Homo sapiens: one gene and its partners. The protein of the gene in region 2 purifies or fractionates together with the protein of the main gene of each other region. This does not show direct contact. Each region holds a gene or a part of one and is shown on either strand. Other genes may lie near its edges. The genes, in order: TGFBRAP1, VPS33A and VPS41.

Region 1 (7,111 bases), on a different chromosome or scaffold from region 2:
TGGAGTGCAGTGGCACGATCTCAGCTCACTGTAACCTCCGCCCAAGTGATTCTCCTGCCTCAGCCTCCTGAGTAGCTGGGATTACAGGTGCCCACCACCACACCAGGCTAATTTTTGTATTTTTAGTAGAGATAGGGTTTCACCTTTTGGCCAGGCTGGTCTCGAACTACTGACCTCAGGTGATCTGCCTGCTTCGGCATCCCAAAGTGCTGGGATTACAGGCGTGAGCCACCTAGCCCAGCCTCAACAACTTTTTAGAATGAGGAGCAAAAACAATCAAATGACAACCCACTCTTGTGGGAAAATCTTACCAGGAACCCTTACGGAGTTTTCTGGTTTTTTGTTTTTTGTTTTTTGTTTTTTTTTTTTTGAGACAGTTTCCCTCTTGCTGCCCAGGCTGGAGTGCAATGGCGTGATCTCAGCTCACCGCAACTGCTGCCTCCTGGGTTCAAGCAATTCTCCTGCCTCAGCTTCCTGAGTAGCTGGGATTACAGGCATGCACCACCATGCCCGGCTAATTTTGTATTTTTAGTAGAGACAGGGTTTCTCCATGTTGGTCAGGATGGTCTCGAACTCCCCACCACAGGTGATCCACCTGCTTTGGCCTCCCAAAGTGCTGGGATTATAGGCGTGAGCCACTGCGCCCAGCCCAGAGTTATTTTTGTAGTTATTTACTTAAAAGAATTTTCCCACTGTTAAGAGTGGGTAGATAGCTAGCTAGACATGAATGGGAGGGAAGAGCCCCTGAGAAAAGGGAGGTCTGGAAAATCCCACATCCCAGAGACCATCAAAAAGATGCATGCTGGCCAGGCATGGTGGCTGATGCTTGTAATCCCAGCACTTTGGGAGGCCGAGGTGGGTGGATCCCTTGAGGTCAGGAGTTCAAGACCAACCTGGCCAACATGGTGAAACCCCATCTCTACCAAAAATACAAAAATTAGCCAGGCATGGTGGTGCATGCCTGAAATCTCAGCTATTTGGAAGGTTGAGGCAGGGAGAATCGCTTGAACCTGGGAGGTAGAGGTTGCAGTGAGCCGATACTGTGCCACTGCACTCCAGCCTGGGCAATAAAGCGAGACTCTGTCTCAAAACAAAACAAACAAACAAAACATGCATGCTAGATATGAGCAGAGAGGAGGGAAAGAGGGTAAAGGAGAAATTCCAAAGAGACATTCAGGTGCAGTAAGTATGGACCTAACCGCTGTACAACCTTCCTGGGGTGGAGGTAATGAGCAATGCAGCCATTAGGTGGGATTCACATCCAACACCGGCTGTACATGTGCACCAACTACTAGTAAGAGAGGGTCCCACAAGCTTAGAGTAGAAATTAGGTGGGAGGAAAAGGTGGGGACTTAAGGCAGAAGCGGGAAAACTAGACAAAGGAAAAAGGCAGAAACTTTAAGACAGAGGTGGGAACTTCAAGAAAAACTCCAGCATCATAAAAACCCGATGCAGAACTCTCAGGGCTGCTGGCTCACTCTCTCAGCATCCCACTCTGCCTCATCTTTCAGAACGTACTGTCTCTCTCCATATAAATTCTCTGTTCTCTATTTCCCTTCAGAAAGCTCTCTGCTATCTCTGAATTGTCTCTTGGCCAAAATCTTTCTCCCAAGATGACTAAGGGCTGAGAATATCCCCACTTCCCGGTAACACCACCAGAGCTGTCTTCAAGCTCCACTTTAATGTGAAAGAAACTGGTTTTATGACTCCAACCCCACGTTCACAGAACAATCGAACTGGATTTCATCAAGCACTGGTCAAGCACTGCTACCTCTGTCTTGCCACACACGCCCAATGTCACTGAGGATTTATTCTGCACAGCGCCAATCTCACTCTCCAGTTTCAACACGCAGTCACCGAGGCCACCCAAAAAGATCAGGCGCACAAATGCATCCTCCTCACCCAGCCCTCCGGGGCCCGCCAGCAGGAACTCCTGTCTCCCTATCCTCTTGACGATCGGCGGCCTCTCCTCACTGCAGTAGGGAAACAGGTCCTGGGAGACGCCTGTGCTGTAATTGTGGATGATGTACTGAGTGGTCAGAGCCAGACACAGGAAGTGGCCGTCCACAGCCACAGCGAGGGGCTGCTCGGCAGTCGACACCTCCTTGACGATCTGCACCCGGTCCTCGTACACCAGAAACATCTGGATGGTTCTGCGTTTGACAGAGATGATGCAAACTTCTACACAGAAGGGGTCCCCACTCACAGGGTTCTCGTTCAGTGCAAACGTGGCTGCCCCCTTGATGCGGGCCCCCGAAGGCACTGGCTCGAGGTTCAGCATGTTGACCAGGCTGATGGAGTTGTCACACAGCACCAGCAGCCTGTTGAGTGCTGAGGCCGCACGCAGCTCGTTCACGGGCTTCTTGAAGCCCAAGTGTCTCTGCAGCTGTTTGGTGGCAGTGAACGTGGCTGGCCCAGCAGGCACTGGCCTCTCCTCCAACAGGAAGTGGTAGACGAAGCAGTCGTTGGTGCCCACGTAGAGGTCCCTGCCGCAGCACTCCACGCACTCTATGTTGACGCGCTCCTTGTCGCCCATCAGCAGCTCCCGCTCCACAGCAGAGACAAGCGTAAAGGCTTTGATGCTCATCATGTCTACTGGCTGATCTGCTGGAAGAGAAAGAGGAAAACTAATTTTAGAGGAACAAGGAAGAAGCAGAAACAGAGGCTGCAATAATGATACGTGGATTCCCTAGTTGTCATTTTCATTAAAGAAAGTCATTCCACGCTATCAAAAAATGGAAAGAAACCATTTCCCCACAGACCTCCCCCATCAGACAGCAGAAGACCCAAGAAGAAAACCACAGACACATACACACACACACACCCATATACACATATGTATGTGCTTGTGATCACGTGCCATCCTGCTCAGTCCCCACACAGAGTCACCTGGAGCCTCCTCACATTGCTCCTGGGAGACACGCTTGAAGGCAGAAGACAAATGCATGCATTCACCCACGGGCAACATAACAAAAGGATTTCTGTGAGGCAGGAGGATGGCTTGACCCCAGGAGCTGGAGGCCAGCCTGGGCAATATAATGAGACCCCATTTAAAAAAAAAAACAAAAAGGATTTCTGAAAAAGGCAGAAATGATCCTCACTGATCTTCCCTGAGTTTCTACAGCTACTTGAATATGCACTTTAGTCAATGAACACAACCACAGTCACAGGATCCTGCCAGGAACACCGAGGCAGACGCCAGGCCTTGGATTCCTTTGTGTTCTTCCCAATAAGGCAGGCGCATCAGCCTCAGCTCCGGAGTAAATGTATTCATGTGGAGAGTAAAGGTGTGCCTCGGATCTCGAAAGGCTTTCAGATGGTGAGTGGAGCTATTTAGTGGATGTGTGGACCGACCGGTCCCTGGCTCCCATTGGAAGTGAGACTTTCCCACACACTAGCCCGTCGCCTCCTACTTCATCTTCTGCAGAGAACTGTGGCTTCACACTCCACAAAGTCACAGGGAGAAGATCAGGCAAGGTGGCCTTTCTGACTTCTCAGGCAGCCAGAAGCAAACTCAAAGGCACAGTCCCTGTGAGCGGGAGCAGGGCAGGGGATCAGAGAGCTGGAAAGAGGACTGCAGAGAATGACGGGAGCTGCAGGGCAGCTGGCTGGGCTTGCGTCAGCACTGCTGCATGTTCAGAGAGCTTGAAGTGAAAGGCTGCTATCACTGTCACTTCCTCATCTCAAGTTGTCTGAACATGGAACAGTGCTGCTTCATGAGAGCTTAAGTTCCTAATACTTGGAGGCATTCCAGCAAAGCAGGGAAGACCTCTCAGAAATATTCAAGAAAGGTTCACGCATCAGGGAAGGGAAGGAATCAGAGAACTTCTTTGGTGCCTTTCAAATAGAAAATTTGGAATTCTACAATTTTGTGTCTGCCCCCATCCATGGGGGCAATGACAGCTACACACAAGTGAGACTCCAGCCCCCTTCCTTAGCTCTACAAAACCCCCAGGAGGGAGGATACCCCAGGGTTGAGGAGGAGGCTTGTCTGTAGACACATCAGTCCTTCCTGTTTTCTTCCCATCACTTGAGCAAATTACTTGGTGCTATGGTCAGAATGTCTGTGTCCCCCTAAAATTCATATGTTGGAACTTAATCCCCAGAGTGGTAGTGTTGGGAGGTGGGGAGGTGATTAGGTCATGAGGGTGGAGCCCTTATGAATGGCATTAGTGCCCTTATTAAAGAGGCCCCAGAGAGCTTATTTGTTCCTTCCATCCACTATGTGAGGAGGCAGCTGCAAGGCACCACCCCTGAGGGATGGGCCCTCACCAAACACTGAGCCTACCATGCCTTAATCTTGGACTTCCCAGCCTCCATGAACGGTAAGCAATACATTTCTATTATCTATTAATTACCTAGTGTATGGTAGTTTGTTACAGCAGCTGGAATGGACACTTGGCTATTCCAGCCTCAACTGCCTCATCTGTGAAATGAGAATAACGGTACCTACTTCATAGGATTGTTGGACGATTAAGTAAGTGACCTCATATAAAATGCGGACAGCTGGCACACAGCACTCAAACTTTTGGATCTCATCATAAATACTATGATTCCCTCCCAGTCTGGATCAGCTCTCACTCCTCTCTCAAACTACCAGCTTGCTTCAGGTGTTTATTTCCCAAGCTGGGCACCAAGAGATTAGACTATGCTGTCTTCTGTCCTCAGATATGGGTAACCTGTTCACCTCCGCCAAAACACAGCCTGCATCATAAGCCAGAACACACACTCACACACCTGCCCCACCCCTAAGACATCTTCACACTCACCTACGGGAGCTCATCTTCACAGAAACTATGGAAAAGAGCTGGGGGAAGTGTAGAGGGAGGTTCTAAAGGCACCACAGAGAAGGAATCATGTCCATCTACCTCGGGGCTGTGGGAACATCCCCAGAATCCCAGGTGAGGCCGAGTGCAGAACTCTTGCAGGCTTCTACAAATAGTCTCTGGCACAAACAGCTCTTAAACAACATCATGTATTTGTCCCAACCAAACATAACCACCAAAACCCACCTAGACAACATTTTTTTCTCCATTTAAGAGCTAATGAGTAAAACCCAGATATTGAAATGTCAGCTTCCAGACATCTAAGTTAGTGAAAGTGAAGTAATACAAAATACTTCTTCCTTCATTGATTAATCAATCAGGGTTGTCTTTTTTAAATGGCAGGAGTAAGCAGTTCTGCCATTTAAAATATAAATTGTGTCTCCCTTTGCGGAAGGAATAGAGAAACAAACTCTGGGCACCTACAATCAAACTCCTTTTATTTAGCTTCTTAAAAGTATAATATTCATAATTCCAGCCCCTGTCTTCAGTTAGCATAAGGGATAAACTAAACACATTTGCAGTAAAGAATATTATAGAAAGAATCAAACGCCTCATATTTAGTCTAAATCCTGGGGTAGATAGAGAAGGGGAGAGGGAGAGAGAGCTGTAAAAAAAAAAAAAAAACAAAAAACAAAAAAACATATGGTTTACTAAAAAGTCATAACTCTATAATATTTAAAAACAAATGCAATATTGTTTCATTATCTAGTAAACTGTTATTCAAGCCTTGCTAAAGATAAGCTTCCTATTATAGGCCTTTAAATTAAGGACTTGCTTTGGTAATTAAATGGTAATAATGCAGAATTACATGGAGGTAAATGAAAGCTGAAGAAGTAACATGCTAGCACTTAAAAATGACTTATCCTTAACCCTGTCTCTACAAAAAAAATATAAAAACTTAGCCAGACCTGGTGGGGCACACCTGTATTCCCTCCTCCTCAGGAGGCTGAGGTAGGAGGGTTGCTTGAGCCCAGTGGTTTGCGGCTTCAGTGAGCCATGATTGCACCACCGCTCTCCAGCCTGGGAAACAGTGTGAGATGCTTTCACACAGAAAAAAAAAGAAAAAAGAAAAAAAAATTGGCTAGGAGTGGTGGCTCACACCTGTAATCCCACCATTTTGGGAGGCTGAGGCAGGCGGATCACCTGAGGTCAGGAGTTCAAGACCAGCCTGCCCAACATGGCAAAACCCCGTCTCTACTAAAAATACACACACAAAAAAAAGTTAGCCAGGCATGGTGGCGGGCACCTGTAATTCCAGCTATTCAGGAGGCTGAGGCAGGAGAATCGCTTGAACTGGGAGGCAGAGGGTGCAGTGAGCCGAGATCGTACCACTGCACTCCAGCCTGGGTGACAGGAGCAAAACTCCATCTCAAAAAAAAAAAATTAATTTAAAAAACTATTTTTTTTAAGCAGTGGGAAAATTCTCTCCATGATCTAATTCACATGATATATTTACTTAGATAAAATATGAATCATAAAAAGATAAACTTTAGGCCACACCTCTATTAAATATAACTTGCTGGGGTTCTGAATCAGAGAAGTTTCAACATGGTAATGTTTCAAAAGGAAACGTTTCTCTAAGGTGTAAAATTCATACTTTACTGTGTGATCTCAAAATGATCGAAAATTTAAACTTTTTGTTAGAACTTCACTTTAAGGCTTACCTATAATCCTAACACTTTGAGAGGCCCAGGCAGGAAGATCACTTGTGCCCAAGAGTTCAAGACCAGCCTGGGCAAAATATTGAGACTTGGTCTCTATTTTTAAAAAAAATAAGAATATTAAATTTAAAAAATTCACTTTAAAAGTATGATTATAATAATTTAAAAGATCAACATTTTAATGTTTTCTTAAAATTTCAAAATACATACCCAGGTAGGGAAGAGATTGGAAAATGCTAGGATGCTCAAGGACCATAATTTAATTAAGCTAACCTTGCATATGCAGCAAGCACCTCTAAGTTTGCAAAAAACTAAACAATTACAAGACACAATCCCACTTCCTAAGAGTCTCCCCGTCCTATTAAGGAAATAGGACTAGAAAAATAAATCAGTAATAGTATAAAGCAATACATGCTAAGGGTCAAAATAAAAATATTAGTAATTATTTCCTACCAGGTTAAGAATATGCACATTGTCATTTTAAAGATTCTGCCACTGGTGATAGTCAGAATCTTAGTCAGCATCTTTAAAGATGCTAATGTAAAAATACAAATCTTTTTCTACAAATGTACACAGAAACATTATCTTTTAGTCAGTATCTGGCATCACTTTAAAAGAACTGAT
Region 2 (6,542 bases):
GCCAACAGAAAATTAAAAAGATAATAAATTTAATGAAAAAGAAAAAAAGAATTATTTCTCTTGAGGCCAGGAGTTTGAGCAACAAAGACCCTGTCTCTAAAAGGAAGAAAAAAAAATTGCTGGGTGTGGTGGTGCTTTGCTATAGTCCCAGCTACTCGTGAGACTGAGGCAGGAGGACTGCTTGAGCCCAGAAGTTCAAGGCTGTGGTGAGCTATGATTGTGCCACTGCACTCCAGCCTGGGCAACAGAATAAGACCTCATCTCAAAAAAATAATTTCTTCTTGAATTAAACTCTGCTCAATACAAACACTTCCTCCTGGTGACAGGCTGGTCTTTAGTGTACAACTGAGAACAAGACCGACCAACACATCATGCTTAATCATAATCCATTTGCAGTGAGGGCAGATCTGAATCGAATAGAACTCACAATGAGACTGTCCCAGTTTTCTCTGAGAATTAAATGTGCTGTTTTAAATCATCCCTCTTTCAACCATTACTCTTTTGCTCCACAATTAACAAAATACTTAATTCTCTGTTGGTTAGAATTCAACACTCTATAGCAAGACACAAAACAGTGTCTGTGTAGACTTCTTTATTAAGGGGGCTGCTGGTGTAGAACTGTCTACCCAACTAGACAAAAGTCCAGACATGATGTAAACAATCCACTCTCCCCAACAATAAATGTACCGTTCACATATCCTTTCTCAGTAAGGGCATACTCTTTTGAGACAAAGACTGCTTCAAGTATTAAATGAACTTACACAAAGGCGTATAATATATAATTATCTACCATTTTCTATTTGCATACAAATGAAGCAATTGAAGTTTTTCAGTCTTCTGCTGAATGCATTTTTAGGAGCTGCCCTAACTATGCTCTGAGCAAGCAAGTATATAGAGTCTTGGGTGAGTGCAGACACATGAGACTACAACTGAGTATCTGTTCCCAGGACAGAATCCCCAGCCAGGGAGACTTGACCAGACTTGAATTGAGCCCCAGGAACCAAAAAATGGAGGGGCAGGGTGGATTCCATTCTCTAAAGCAGCTGATGACTGCCTGAGGTGGAAGGTATAAACTAATCTCCCTGGGATATAACAAGTATTTAAAAAAGGATTTTCTACAATGAAAATGGTTTTCTTTAAGACATTTCCAAATACTGAATATCAAGGCCAAATTAATTCCATGAGAAACTAATCTTTCAATTATTATCTCTGCCACTCTTCATTCTTTCATTAAAGAGATTTTTAAAAAAGTATACAGAATTTCTCTTTCATTAATAATATTTACCGTGCCCATCAGAACTCCACTAATGGGCCGGGCACGGTGGTTCACACCTGTAATCCCAGCACTTTGGGAGGCCGAGGTGGGCCAATCGCCTGAGGTCAGGAGTTTGAGACCAGCCTGGCCAATATGGTGAAACCCCATCTCTACTAAAAATACAAAAATTAGCCAGGTGTGGTGGTGCACATCTGTAATCCCAGCTACTCAGGAGGCTGAGGCATGAGAATCGTCTGAACCCGGGAAGTGGAGGTTGCAGTGAGCTGACATCGCACCACTGCACTCCAGTCTGAAAAGAGCGTGAGACTCTGTCTCAAACAAACAAAAACAAAACAAAACAAAAACCTCCACTAATGAAAAAGGTGGGGAAAAACAATGTGTGGTTACTAATCAACAACCAAAATCACACCTGGCTGGGACCCAGCAAAGCAGGGGACCAGCTAGTTTTGCTGGAGGCTTGGGCAAGGGCAGCAAAACTGCCAACCTGACTTGGTGCCCTTGGTGCCTTAACTCCTCCAGAAGCTAAGATGGAGGAGCAGAGGGGCAGAGAACACACGGATTTTCAACTTCTCCTCCAACACCCCTGCCCCCCACCACAGCCTGACAGTCTCCTGCAGGAGTAGCAGCAGCTGTGGCTGCTGGTCTCCAAGATCATCAAGAGATACACCTGGAGAAGGCTGAGGTCACCAGAGAGGGGGCTGAAACAGTGTTTTCAGCTGAGTACGGAGTGGCCACAGACTGCTAGAAAAGTACACGTGGCAGTTACCATGGAAACGAAGTGGCCAGATGCTGAAGAAGCAAGAGTTGCCCCTGCTCACTGTGGGACCAGTTGGATGTTGGGCCCTTGATGGACAGAAGAGAAAACGGAAACCTCAATGGAGGCACCCACCACTGCTGTGTCTGGAGTTAACGTGTGTGCTAAGAAACTGTCTTTGAATTACTTCAAAGGCTGAATTCTCAGAAGGTTGCTCCCCAATTATCACATTCTTCCATGTCAAAAGCCCCTGATAAGTATGGAACCTAAGGAGATGTAGCTGATCACATAGAGCATAAACTTTGTTTCTGGGCAAGAAGCTCCCCTAAACCTCTTGCTTTGTAAGAAGTAGAAGGAAGCAAACTTGCCTTAGTGATCAGTTGCGACAGTGACTGATGACCCTAAATATAATCTCCCACACTCTGCAGGAAAAAGAAATCTCAACTCAGTGATAAAATGATCTCCAGCTCCCAACACTTAACCACTGTCCTAGGCCTGATGCGCCTTGAAGAAATACAGCACTGGGGATTAGAGGATGAACTTTCTCTTTTTATTTTCAGTTTCACCTCCTCAGTCTCAGCTTTCTTATTTTAAGAGCTGGCCCCGTTTGTCTGGCTGAATGGATTATCTACCCCCACCATCCTTAATGTATTTCCAGAGGTCTCTAATGAAGACCCTGAGCTTAGAAAACTCAAAACCAGTGCTGCTTTTACTCAGGTTGATTTTCTTCTATTCTTCTTTCTTCAGCAGATTAGGGGCCAGGCACGGTGGCTCAGGCCTGTAATCCCAGCACTGTGGGAGGCCGAGGCAGGTGGATCACCTGAGGTCAGGAGTTTGAGACCAGCCTGGCCAACATGGTGAAACACCATGGCTACTAAAAATACAAAAATTAGCCGGGTGTGGTGGTGCATGCCTGTAGTCCCAGCTACTCAGGAGGCTGAGGCAGGAGAATTGCTTGAACCTAGGAGGTGGAGGTTGCAGTGAGGTGAGACCGTGCCACTGCACTCTAGTCTGGGTGACAGAGCAAGACTCCGTCTCAAAGGAAAAAAAAAAAGGGAATACAAAAGAGACGGAGAAAGCAGTAAACAGTAGTATAATTTAAGAAGCTGACCCCAGAATATATTCTGTATTCCCATGTTTCTTCTATGGGGTTTTACTTCCTTTCAGCAATTTCTTCAAAGAGGTAGTTTATTCTGCAGTACACTTGTTAAGTCTCCTCTGAACATCCTAGAAAGGTTTTTCCATCAGAGCCTCTATCCAACTGGTTCCATTCATTAGTTTAGTGGTGGCAATGACATATTCTGTACCTCCATCTTCCAACTGGGAGAGAAATCGCAGGGCAGCAATTTCAGCGAAGGTTACGCCCCCAAGGAAAAATATCAGAGTCACTCGGTTTTCTCCCGGTTGACCTAAAATTTAAACATTTCAGAATTAAAAACTATTTATTATTAATGCTTCTCTTCCCACCTCTTCAAACATTTTATCATTCATAAGAATAAACAAGTGCCTTCATCCAGACAGTTCATCTGAAACCTAAGAATACTGATTTTGATCTCAACATTTTTTTTTAACTTCTGAGATTCTCAACACAGAAGTTGAAAGCTGCTATCCCTCAGGGAATAATCCGATTCGAGTTCTTACTACATACATTAGCAACGAACAAAAGAGGTGTATTTAATTCTGACTCCTAAGTGCTTTACTATTTTACAAAGCAACTGTACAATACCTGAAAACCACACTAACAGTACATAATTATCTGTAGATGCTGGACTGGGACTTACGTTTCTTCTGCAGTCCTGTGGGCAGTGGCTGCCGCTCCTCAAAGTGGGGCCCTGGGAGGATGCGGAGGACCTCCTCGATGCTCCGCCAGCCAGGCCGGGAAAGCAGCTGGGCCAGCCGCACACTGAGCGGGGCATACCCACTGTACACATACGATATGTCCGTGGGGTTCTGTGAGATAATTAAAGAACAAAAACCCTATAGATACAGAGACTTAGAGCTACCTGACTGTGGCCTTTTGGGTAATCCAAAATTATTTGATTTGGATTTAAAGATATACAACCCCCACCCCTGCCATGCCTTGTTCTAATCCACCCTAGCTGGGCTCAATTTTTAGCAGCCAGAGCTTCAATTTTGACTGAAATCTTGAAAAGCCACTCAAAGCAGCTCTAGGTACAGAAGATGAAGAATTATTTGGTTTGGCATGAAACTTTTTTTTTTTTTTTGAGACAGAGTCTGGCTCTGTCACCCAGGCTGGAGTGCAGTGGCATAATTTCAGCTCACTGCAACCTCCGCCTCCCTAGTTCAAGCAATTCTCCTGCCTCAGGCTCCCAAAGAGCTGGGATTACAGGTGTGCACCACCACTCCTGGCTCATTGTTGTATTTTTAGTAGAGACAGGGTTTCACCATGTTGGCCAGGCTGGTCTTGAATTTCTGACCTCAGGTGATCCACCTGCCTCGGCCTCCCAAAGTGTTGGGATTACAGGCCTGAGCCACCGCGTCCAGCCAGCATGAAACATATTGGGGGGAACTTGGCACTCCCTAGCTGAGCAATGATGTGCAATAACCTTTGAACTTAGCAATTCTACTTTTAGGCATTAATCCTACAGAGGTGCTTGCAGAACAAAAGATAATAGACCAAAGTATAAACGTATTAACTGCAACACTGCATGTAACAGTAAAGACTGGAAACAACCTGAATTTCTATCAATAGCAATCTGTTAAATCATTAAATAAGGTATAGCCTCAAAACCACTATGTAGCAATTTAGAAAAATTAAAAAGAAGGGGAAGATCACAGAAGACCCTTCAAGATCCTTTGTTAAGTGGTGGGTGGGTCCAGAGTCAGAAAGGTCAGAACAGTGAAGACAGCTGAACTAATATGTACATGATAGACTCTAGACATTAAGGGTCTCTATTTTCCCACCGGGAAAAAATCATTTAATTTTGCTCCTGACAGAGGAGACTGTCTAGTTATGAGCTTTTGTTGCAAGAGGCGGCCTAATAAAGTTCCTTATGAAAAACCAAAAAAGACTGAAATTTAGAAACATTAGAATAAGTAATAAATGTAAAGCAAAGTGCACCCCACTTTGGAGACCAACAGTAGAGAATATGCACTCTTTATGTAAAAATGTATATGCACAGAATCTTTCTGGAAGGATAGATAAAAAACTGGCCACAGTGGCTGCCTCTGAGGGGAAACTGTGGAAGGAAACTCACTTGGCCCTGATGGCCCTGCTTTTGCATAGCTTTTTTTTTCCCTTTTTCTTTTTCTTTTTGAGATAGGGTCTCATTCTGTCGCCCATGCTGGAGTGCAGCAGTGCAATCTCAGCTCACTGTAGCCTCAACCTCCCAGGCTCAGCCTCCTGGGAGGCTCCCACCTCAGCCTTCTGAGTACAGTAGCTGGGCCTACAGATGCATGCTCCACCATGCCCTGATCACTTTTGTATTTTTTAGTAGAGACAGGGTTTCACCATGTTGGCCAGGCTGGTCTTGAACTCCTGACCTCAAGTGATCCTCCTGCCTTGGCCTCCCAAAGTGCTGGAATTACAGGTGTGAGCCACCGCGCCTGGCCATGGCTGGCTTGTTTATGAGTGCTGGACATCTCCACTGACTCCTCTAGACACTCTCCACCCTTCTCCGCAATGCTCTGTGCCCGGAGATGGACCTGTGCGTCCCACACCAACACACTCCAATGCCTTCTCTTTGGGTCTGACCAAGACAAAGCACCAGAGTGAACTGGAGAGTGGGCAGCAGTGTGAGGATGACGTTGTCACTGGCCAGCTTCCTCTGCTGGAGGTTGACCATACCCTCAGCCAGAGGCCCCTCACCCCTTACCTCACCAGATGGCCTCACCACAGCTCTTCTCTCCAGGTTCTAAGACAAGTTTCTAGAACACCCCCCTCTCCTTGTCCTTCAGGCCGTGGCTGGCAAGGGCTCCCCACTGCACTGCCTCTCCACTCTTCCCACATCTTTATTTATTTGAGACAGAGTCTTACTGTGTAGCCCAGCCTGGAGTGCAGTGGCACAAACATGGTTCACTGCAACCGCCTCCTGGGCTCAGTGATCCTCTAACCACAGCCCCTCGGACTAAAGGCTCATACTACCACTGGCCATTTTTTTTGTAGAGACAAGGTTTTGCCATGTTGCCCAGGCTGGTCTCGAACTCCTGGACTCAAGCGATCTGACCCTTCAGCCTCCCAATATACTGGGATTACAAGAATGAGCCACCGAGCCTGCCCCATAACTTTTTTTTTTTTTTTTTTGAGACAGAGTCTTGCTCTGTCGCCCAGGCTGGAGTGCAATGGCATGATCTGAGCTCACTACAACCTCCGCCTCCCAGGTTCAAGCAATTCTCCTGCCTCAGCCCCCCAAGTAGATGGGATTACAGGCACGCACCACAATGCTGGGCTAATTTTTGTATTTTTAGTAGAGATGGGGTTTCCCATGTTAGTCAGGCTGTTCTCAAACTCCTGAGCTCAAGTGATCTGCCCGCCTCGGCCTCCCAAAGTGC
Region 3 (7,111 bases), on a different chromosome or scaffold from region 2:
TGGGTACTGTCTCGGAGAAAGGGAAGTAAGTTTGGTCGATCATATTCAGCATAAAGACTGATCTGTTTTTCATGGTAACGCTGCCCCTTATGGTGGTCTCTCTTGAAAAGCTTATGCAAATACTAAAAGGAACAAAAGATAAGCCGTGACCCATTAAAATGAGAAAAGCAATACCTGGCTAACATTGCTATTTTTAGCTCTAAACACCTCCCATGGACAGGTTGGGGGAGAAGCAGTCTTCAGGGAAAACCTCTAGGTGATGGAGAAGTGGAAAGGAAAACCCTTTGGGAGAGCAAAGGATTCCGATAATTTCTCTAGAAGGGCCCCAAAACCTGACTCTGCCACGTACCAACTGTGACCTTAGGCAAGTCACTAATCTCTCTGAGACTCAGTTTATCTACAAAAATTTTATTGAGTTACTGTGACAATTAAACGAGTTGCCATTACGAAATCACTCAGAACCAATGAACTTAGCATACACTAAGAACTACAGAAATGTTAATGACAGTAGTTGTCAATATCATCATTGGTATCTGCTTTGGCTCAGAAATAAAAAGATGAGTGGTCTTCCCAGATCATAAAAATTATTTTACACAAAAGAGGGTAGAGTCCTGGGACAAGCACATATTCTTAAAAACTCAAGTAGCGGGCACTAAACTCATTTCCATACATTCTGCATCTCCTCTTTGTTGACTCTTCAAATGAAATGCTGCCTAAACTGGTAACATCAAAAACAAAAATACAAAGTAAAAATCAAGAAGAATGCAGGTGTTCTGAAACAGTTTTCAAAACTGATTCCTTACCTTAGCTGTCTGAAAAAAAGTTAACTTCACAGGAAATCAGTAATTCACTTTCTCCTCACAGGCAAGATTAAGTCTATCAATACAGTACTCAGAAGTCAAAAAACAATTCAATGTTTAGTTAATATTAAATGTAAACAAAAACCCCACAATCTACTGAAGACAGGAAGACTTAATCACCAATCCCACGAGCATTAACACCTTGGGTTGCTGTTTCCAAGTGGATTGGTTTATAACAGACATAGAGCACCAGCCGCCCTGCAGCTGAGACTGTAAATGCGCTGATGTTTGTTATTGCTGTTGAATCTAGTCACAATGACGCCTAACCATGGACACATGCACCTTAAGAAACCAATCTTCAGGCTTCCTGTTCACTTCTTCCTAAGGCAAAACGGAGCAGTACAAGCAGTAGACTGAACTCATGTGCCAGGCAGAGGTCTGATGAACACCACCGCCAGTCCACTGGCACTGGGGTCAGTGTGTTAGCGGGGATATGTGGTGCTGTTTCCCAGAGTGCAAAAAGGACAGGGAGGCCCTGTCACATGAATGCTGAGTCAAATTTATATATATAGAAACAAGACATTGCCTGGCAGGGAAGATGAGCCATGTTAGTGTGGGCTGTGCCACCACTTCACCATTGCACTGATTACATTGTCGCACAGAGAGCTACTGCCCATAATCCTGTCTCCTGGCTTAAGTAAGTCAGAAATCACTGCTTTATAAATGAATTCCTAAGGTGGTTAGCAATGTGGAGCCTTGCTTGGGAAGCAGATAATCTTGAGATTTCCAATCATGAACAATGCAGCAGTAGCATCTGAGCAAAAGAGAAAAAAAGGTGCCTCTCATTCCCTTCCTGCAGTCTTCAAAAGCTTCAAAGCAGAAAACTGACTTTTGAAAAAAATGCTCTATTCCCTAAGCCTCCTCCTAGGGTGCAATGAGATGGGCAAAGATACAAGTGCACTTATTGTATCTGATACCCATAGTCCTACTGATATAATCCCTAAGTGTGCTAAGTTTTCTCTTGTATAACTTTTAAAGGACATAGAAAACAACTATTCCTGCTTTACTCTCATGATGATGCAATGCAGAGAATTGAAGTAGCCCCCCAAAGAAATCTAGAATAACAGGCCTTAATTACACAACCACCAATAGCACACAAGAAATATGGAATTAGCTATTGTCATGGTGAGGGACAAAAGAAATGAGACTCTGCCCTTTTATCGCTCTGTGGTCTGGATATGGAATGGTTGTCTGACATTTCCTTAGCAGGAGAACTTGGTACAGTATCTGCGGTGCCATACTGGCCTTTACTGTGATATATGCCATGGTTATATTTAATGGCAACTACAGAGGGAGAGTGCTTATTCCTAGACACAACATAACACAAAAACATTCATTATAGTTAAATATATAGTTATGTTACATATATTTATATTATAGTAATATAATAGATAGATTGGTAACTTTTTTCCATCACAATTCAATTGTGGGTCAAAATTCAACTGCCTGATCTACAATTAATCCCTGACCTTGAATTCACAGCATATGCTGCATTTTGGTAATTACAGAACATTGTTTGTGGTGAAACCTCCAACTGGAATATTAACCTCCTTGAAGAATTCACTCCAGTATCCTCCTCGCACCAATACTGAAAGGTGATTCACCCACTGGTCAATCAAAAGGGCAAAAGGAGGAGACTGCCATGCTCACCACATGCTGTAGCTCTGGTCTGTCTTCCAATTCTTCCACTACCTTTTTAATCTAGATAAAAAAGAAAAGTTTCAAGGTGGAGTCATGAGGACAGAAAGACAGCTACAAAATTATCTGATAAACTCTCTTCTTCACAGCTATAGGAGTCCCAGACGTTCATCTGGTAACACATATAAAAACAAATGACACTCACTGAAATTTTATCTTCATTGTCCAAAAGCATGTCAACAGCTTTCTGAAACATATAAGAAAAGCCACAGTCAATGAAATCCGTTATTTAAGAAGAGAAGACTAAACACAATGCAGTGTACCTACCACAGTTCACAGGTGGAAGGCTTATTTTGTATACTTAAGGAGGCCCTTGGCTTTACAATGGCTCTTATGGAAAATGACATTTGTGAAGAACTGCATTTTCAAATGCATCTCAATCTGAAGCCTATGTGTTTTGCACACTACTAAAATGGTGCTTTGCTATAACTTCCCAAATACAAAACATCTTGACTGCCCATATCCTAGCCCCCCGCCCTCCGATGTCTCGGATACCTTCACACCTTCTCATGAGACTCTCAGTAGTTATGGAGAGCATCTCTTTACCAGTATATCAAGAAAATGAGCTTTTCTTCCAGCTACTTCAACCTCGACCTAGTCTCCCTATGAGACTCCACAGACAGAAGGAGCTGGTTTTATGAGGAGAAGGGAATAAGAGTCAGAAAGAGAATGAGATACCTGAAGTTTCATAATGACATAAAGCTTTTGGACTTTCAGAATTTACTTTAGCCACTTTTATCATTCAGGAAACACAAACTAGACAGTTTATGTCAAGAGGAAGAGGGAAAGCAGCACACCAGACTGAGCCTCACACGGAACACCTGGGGGCCCTGTTCTAGACTCTGCTACGACCTAGCTGTCTGCTCCAAATGTTACTTTTGTTCTCTGAAATACGAGGGTGTTGGAGTAGATTATCCCTAAGGTCTCTTCTAACCAGAAGACTCTGATTCCTTACATCTGGATCACATTCTAGAATAGCAATTAGTTTCAGCTCATTCATCTTTTTTCCACAGGAACATATGCAAAACGAGCTCTGGAGAACAATGGAAGGGGGTGCATGAGGGGAGACTAGATATGAGGAAAATGTAATTAATTTTTACATAAGCATCTCATCCTCTGCCAGACAAGCAGAGCCTCTCTACCTGAACTTCCTTGGAGCTACGTAATTCTTCGTAAATCTGTAGTCCCTAAAGACTTGACTCAGTATTTTAAAAAGGGCTAAAGCATCTTTGAGAAAAAGACGTAGCTCTAGCTCCTATCTAAATTAAGTTTAAGTTGGTGGAGATTAATATAGCACACAATATCTCTAAATACAGTACAATATAATTGAAAAATGCATTAATCCTTTTGGAGCCTTTAGGGTTCTACTTTTAGGTTTATCTAAAATTTCAATTTTTTGAATAAGAACACTGTTTTATAAACCTCATTATTTCTGTCATGAGCACTTGTAATTAGATTTCTTTTACACACACACACACACACACACACACACACACACACAGCTTGCATCACTTTGCAAGCACCAATGTGAGCTGTGGCTGGGTCCACTCATTAGGGGGCGTAAATTTATTATTAGGTTATTCAAATTTGTCACACAATAAAATAACATTCCACATGTCCTGGACATGAGCATCACCTCAAACCAGGGGAAACCCCACATGCTGGATACGTGAACACCAAGAAATAAAATAGTAATAAGTCGGTCAAGATGGAAGTTCACTTAATTTTAAAATTCTGGAAAACAGGTTAGGAGGGATAAATGAGTCAAAGTATATACGTGGTTTGTTTCTATAAATTATATGAATTGTTTTAGCAAGAAATTACTTTATATGCGCACACACACAACTTTAAAAGTTCTCTATCAACTTTGAATTGCTTTCACAGAATAACTACATTATGAAAAGGATTCCTGAATGCCAAACAACTAGAATAACAACATCTAGCGAGGGTCAGAGTGTTCTAAAGATTGTCGGCATAAAGCCAAGTTATGTGATTCATTCACCAATCCAGCATTTGGATAGATATCTAAGTATTAAATATTTGGAATAGTAAAAATAATTGACAGTACTAAAATAAAAAGCACATTACCTCTGAATCAAAATCCATTAATAAAACAATTTTATCCTTGATAGAACTGAAAAGATTATGCTTGTGGATCAACTGAAAAACGTCTTTATGTCTTAATGTTAAGTATATTTCCAGAGCATTGCCATAGTTCTTGTCATAGGTGTACCTGGTAATACAAATTTTTTACATTAATATTCATCAACAGTTCTAATTAAAACACACACAGAGAGATCATGGTTCACAATATTAAAAATGGAAACACTCCTTTAGAGAGAAAAGTTAACTTTATTTCAAAAAATATTCCTATTTTTGAATAGGATTTAACTATACACGACCAATAAGTATTTCTTTCTCAGAACTTTGCCTCTCATGTTGCCAAAATTTAAGAAAATTCACAATATTCAAGTAATAAAAATGGTCTTTATTGGGGGTCTCAGTCTCAAAAGTTTTACAAACATCCATACAGCAAAGAAACTAGGATCCAGGATGAAGTTCTCATTTTAGTAACAGAAACATCCGTTCCAATTCTTACAAGCAGTATTCAGCTGACAAATGGCTAATATTCCAAAAGCTGATTTTAAGGGGGCTGTGTCTAACTGAAATGTGTTTTTCCATTGAAACAATGTTTTTCACATTAAGTCCCTAAGTCAGCTCTTGAGAGCTCACTGAACTGAAGCTGTACTGTTGGTCCATTACGAACGTGCTGCAGACTCTAAGGGGTATCTAACAGGACAACGTTTCCAAGAGAAAATGATTAGCATTTCAACTTAGAATGCCATAAACACAACCTCCTCTTGTGGAAAATCCAACACGTCCAGAGTTCTAGGTCATTTTGGTATACCTTTTTTGGTTTTGGGCAAAAGAAGAAAAAACAAGGGAGAGGAGTGGCCTGAGGTGATGGGGGCACTGAGGAGAGGTGGATGCAGGGATGGTCGTCTTGGCTAGACCTGCAGTATACTTCTTGTTTCCCTAGATCGAAGTACTTGAGAGCATATCTTATCTATCTCTGTATCATAAGCGTCTCGCACAAAGCCTGCATCACTGAATGTGCCCAAGAAATATGAAAAATATTAACCAAGCTGCCATTTTCTGAGCCCTGACTCAGGGTCAGGGAGTCCTCTATTATGACATCTCTTTTAAAGTTTAAAATTTTCCCATAAGGAATTGACATTTGAGAGATTAAATTAACTGACTTGAAGACCCTAGAAGAGCAGAATCCAGAGCCTTGCTCATTGGGAAACTGTTATGCTTGAGTGATCTAAAACTTGGCACCCTTTTGTTTCCTAACCACTGCCTCTCCCAAGCGCTGTGCGTTAGGGGTTCTCTTCTCTGGGAAACAGATTACATTGCAATTGTACAGTTTCACACATGTCCTTATCGCCTACTCATTTGAGGTTTATGAGAGGTTTTTACTAAGAAGGAATGTAGGAAAATGGTATAAAATACATCTTCTCCACTTGGAGTTTGCCAAATCTAAAGTATGAAAAACTTTTCAACACAGACTGATATGGAAAAAGAAACACTTAAGTATACTCACAATTCTGCCAGGGTTTTAAGTAAAGTCTTGTTCTGACTATCTTTCTTCAAATGATCCCGAACTGCTTGAACTATGACTGAATTATTATACAGATCTCCAGGCCATTCTCGGATCAATGTGGCAAAACCCTAACCAAAGGTGAAAAACAGAAAAAGAACACTCATTCAACAGAATAATAGTTGTGATATTGTGAAATATACATTTGGTCCTCCTTCTGTTTCCTGGCATATAACTCTCAAAATCCTTAGAATCTCTAAAATGATGTGTCTTCTTGTATGCTAATGAGCTGACTGGTGGCTAGCAGCCCCTAGGTAACTTAAGGATGGGGTTGGGCACAGGATAGACTGAGACAGGATTAAAGGGTTGGAACTTTTCAGCCCTACCCCCACCCCTGCCCCACAACCTCCAAGGAGGGGAGAGGGGCTGAAGGTTACACCGATCACCAATGGCCCAGTGTTTAAATCAATCATGTCTAAGTAATGAAGCTTTCATTAAAACCCAAAAGGAGTGGCTTTGGAGGGCTCCCCAAGAGCTGAACACCTGGAGGTTCCTGGAGGGTGGTGCACCCAAAGAGGACCTGGAAGCTCCATGCCTCTTCCCACATACCTTGCCCTCTGCATCTAATCCATTTGGCTGTTCATCTGTATCCTTTGCAATATTCTTTATAATAAACCAGTAAATGTAAGTAAAGTGTTCCCCTGAGTTCTATGAGCTGCTCTAGCAAATGAGTCAAATCTAAGGAGGTGGTAGTGGGAATTCCAGTTTATAGTTGACCAGTCGGAAGTACAGGTGACAGCCTATAACTTGTGATTGGTATGTCTGAAGTGGGGGCAGTCTTGTGGGCCTGAGCCCTCAGCCTGCAGGAACTGATGCTATCTTCATGTAGACAGTGTCAGAATGAACTGAATTAGAGGACATCCAGCTGGTGTCCACTGCAGAACTAATTGCT

The links.
Region 1: the proteins of VPS33A (region 2) and TGFBRAP1 purify together in Homo sapiens (co-immunoprecipitation; 5 studies listed by BioGRID and IntAct, with this or other methods). This does not show direct contact.
Region 3: the proteins of VPS33A (region 2) and VPS41 purify together in Homo sapiens (affinity purification with mass spectrometry; 7 studies listed by BioGRID and IntAct, with this or other methods). This does not show direct contact.

Annotation. Positions count from the first base shown.
Region 1 is NC_000002.12:105,305,712-105,312,822, forward strand, and holds part of TGFBRAP1 (transforming growth factor-beta receptor-associated protein 1), read right to left. Parts: intron 2,608-7,111; 5' UTR 2,591-2,607; coding exon 1,903-2,590; intron 1-1,902. UniProt on the Homo sapiens protein: Plays a role in the TGF-beta/activin signaling pathway. It associates with inactive heteromeric TGF-beta and activin receptor complexes, mainly through the type II receptor, and is released upon activation of signaling.
Region 2 is NC_000012.12:122,228,989-122,235,530, forward strand, and holds the end of VPS33A (vacuolar protein sorting-associated protein 33A), read right to left. Parts: intron 3,981-6,542; coding exon 3,812-3,980; intron 3,440-3,811; coding exon 3,258-3,439; 3' UTR 576-3,257; downstream 1-575.
Region 3 is NC_000007.14:38,752,192-38,759,302, forward strand, and holds part of VPS41 (vacuolar protein sorting-associated protein 41 homolog), read right to left. Parts: intron 6,291-7,111; coding exon 6,163-6,290; intron 4,792-6,162; coding exon 4,647-4,791; intron 2,746-4,646; coding exon 2,704-2,745; intron 2,562-2,703; coding exon 2,511-2,561; intron 123-2,510; coding exon 1-122. UniProt on the Homo sapiens protein: Plays a role in vesicle-mediated protein trafficking to lysosomal compartments including the endocytic membrane transport and autophagic pathways. Acts as a component of the HOPS endosomal tethering complex.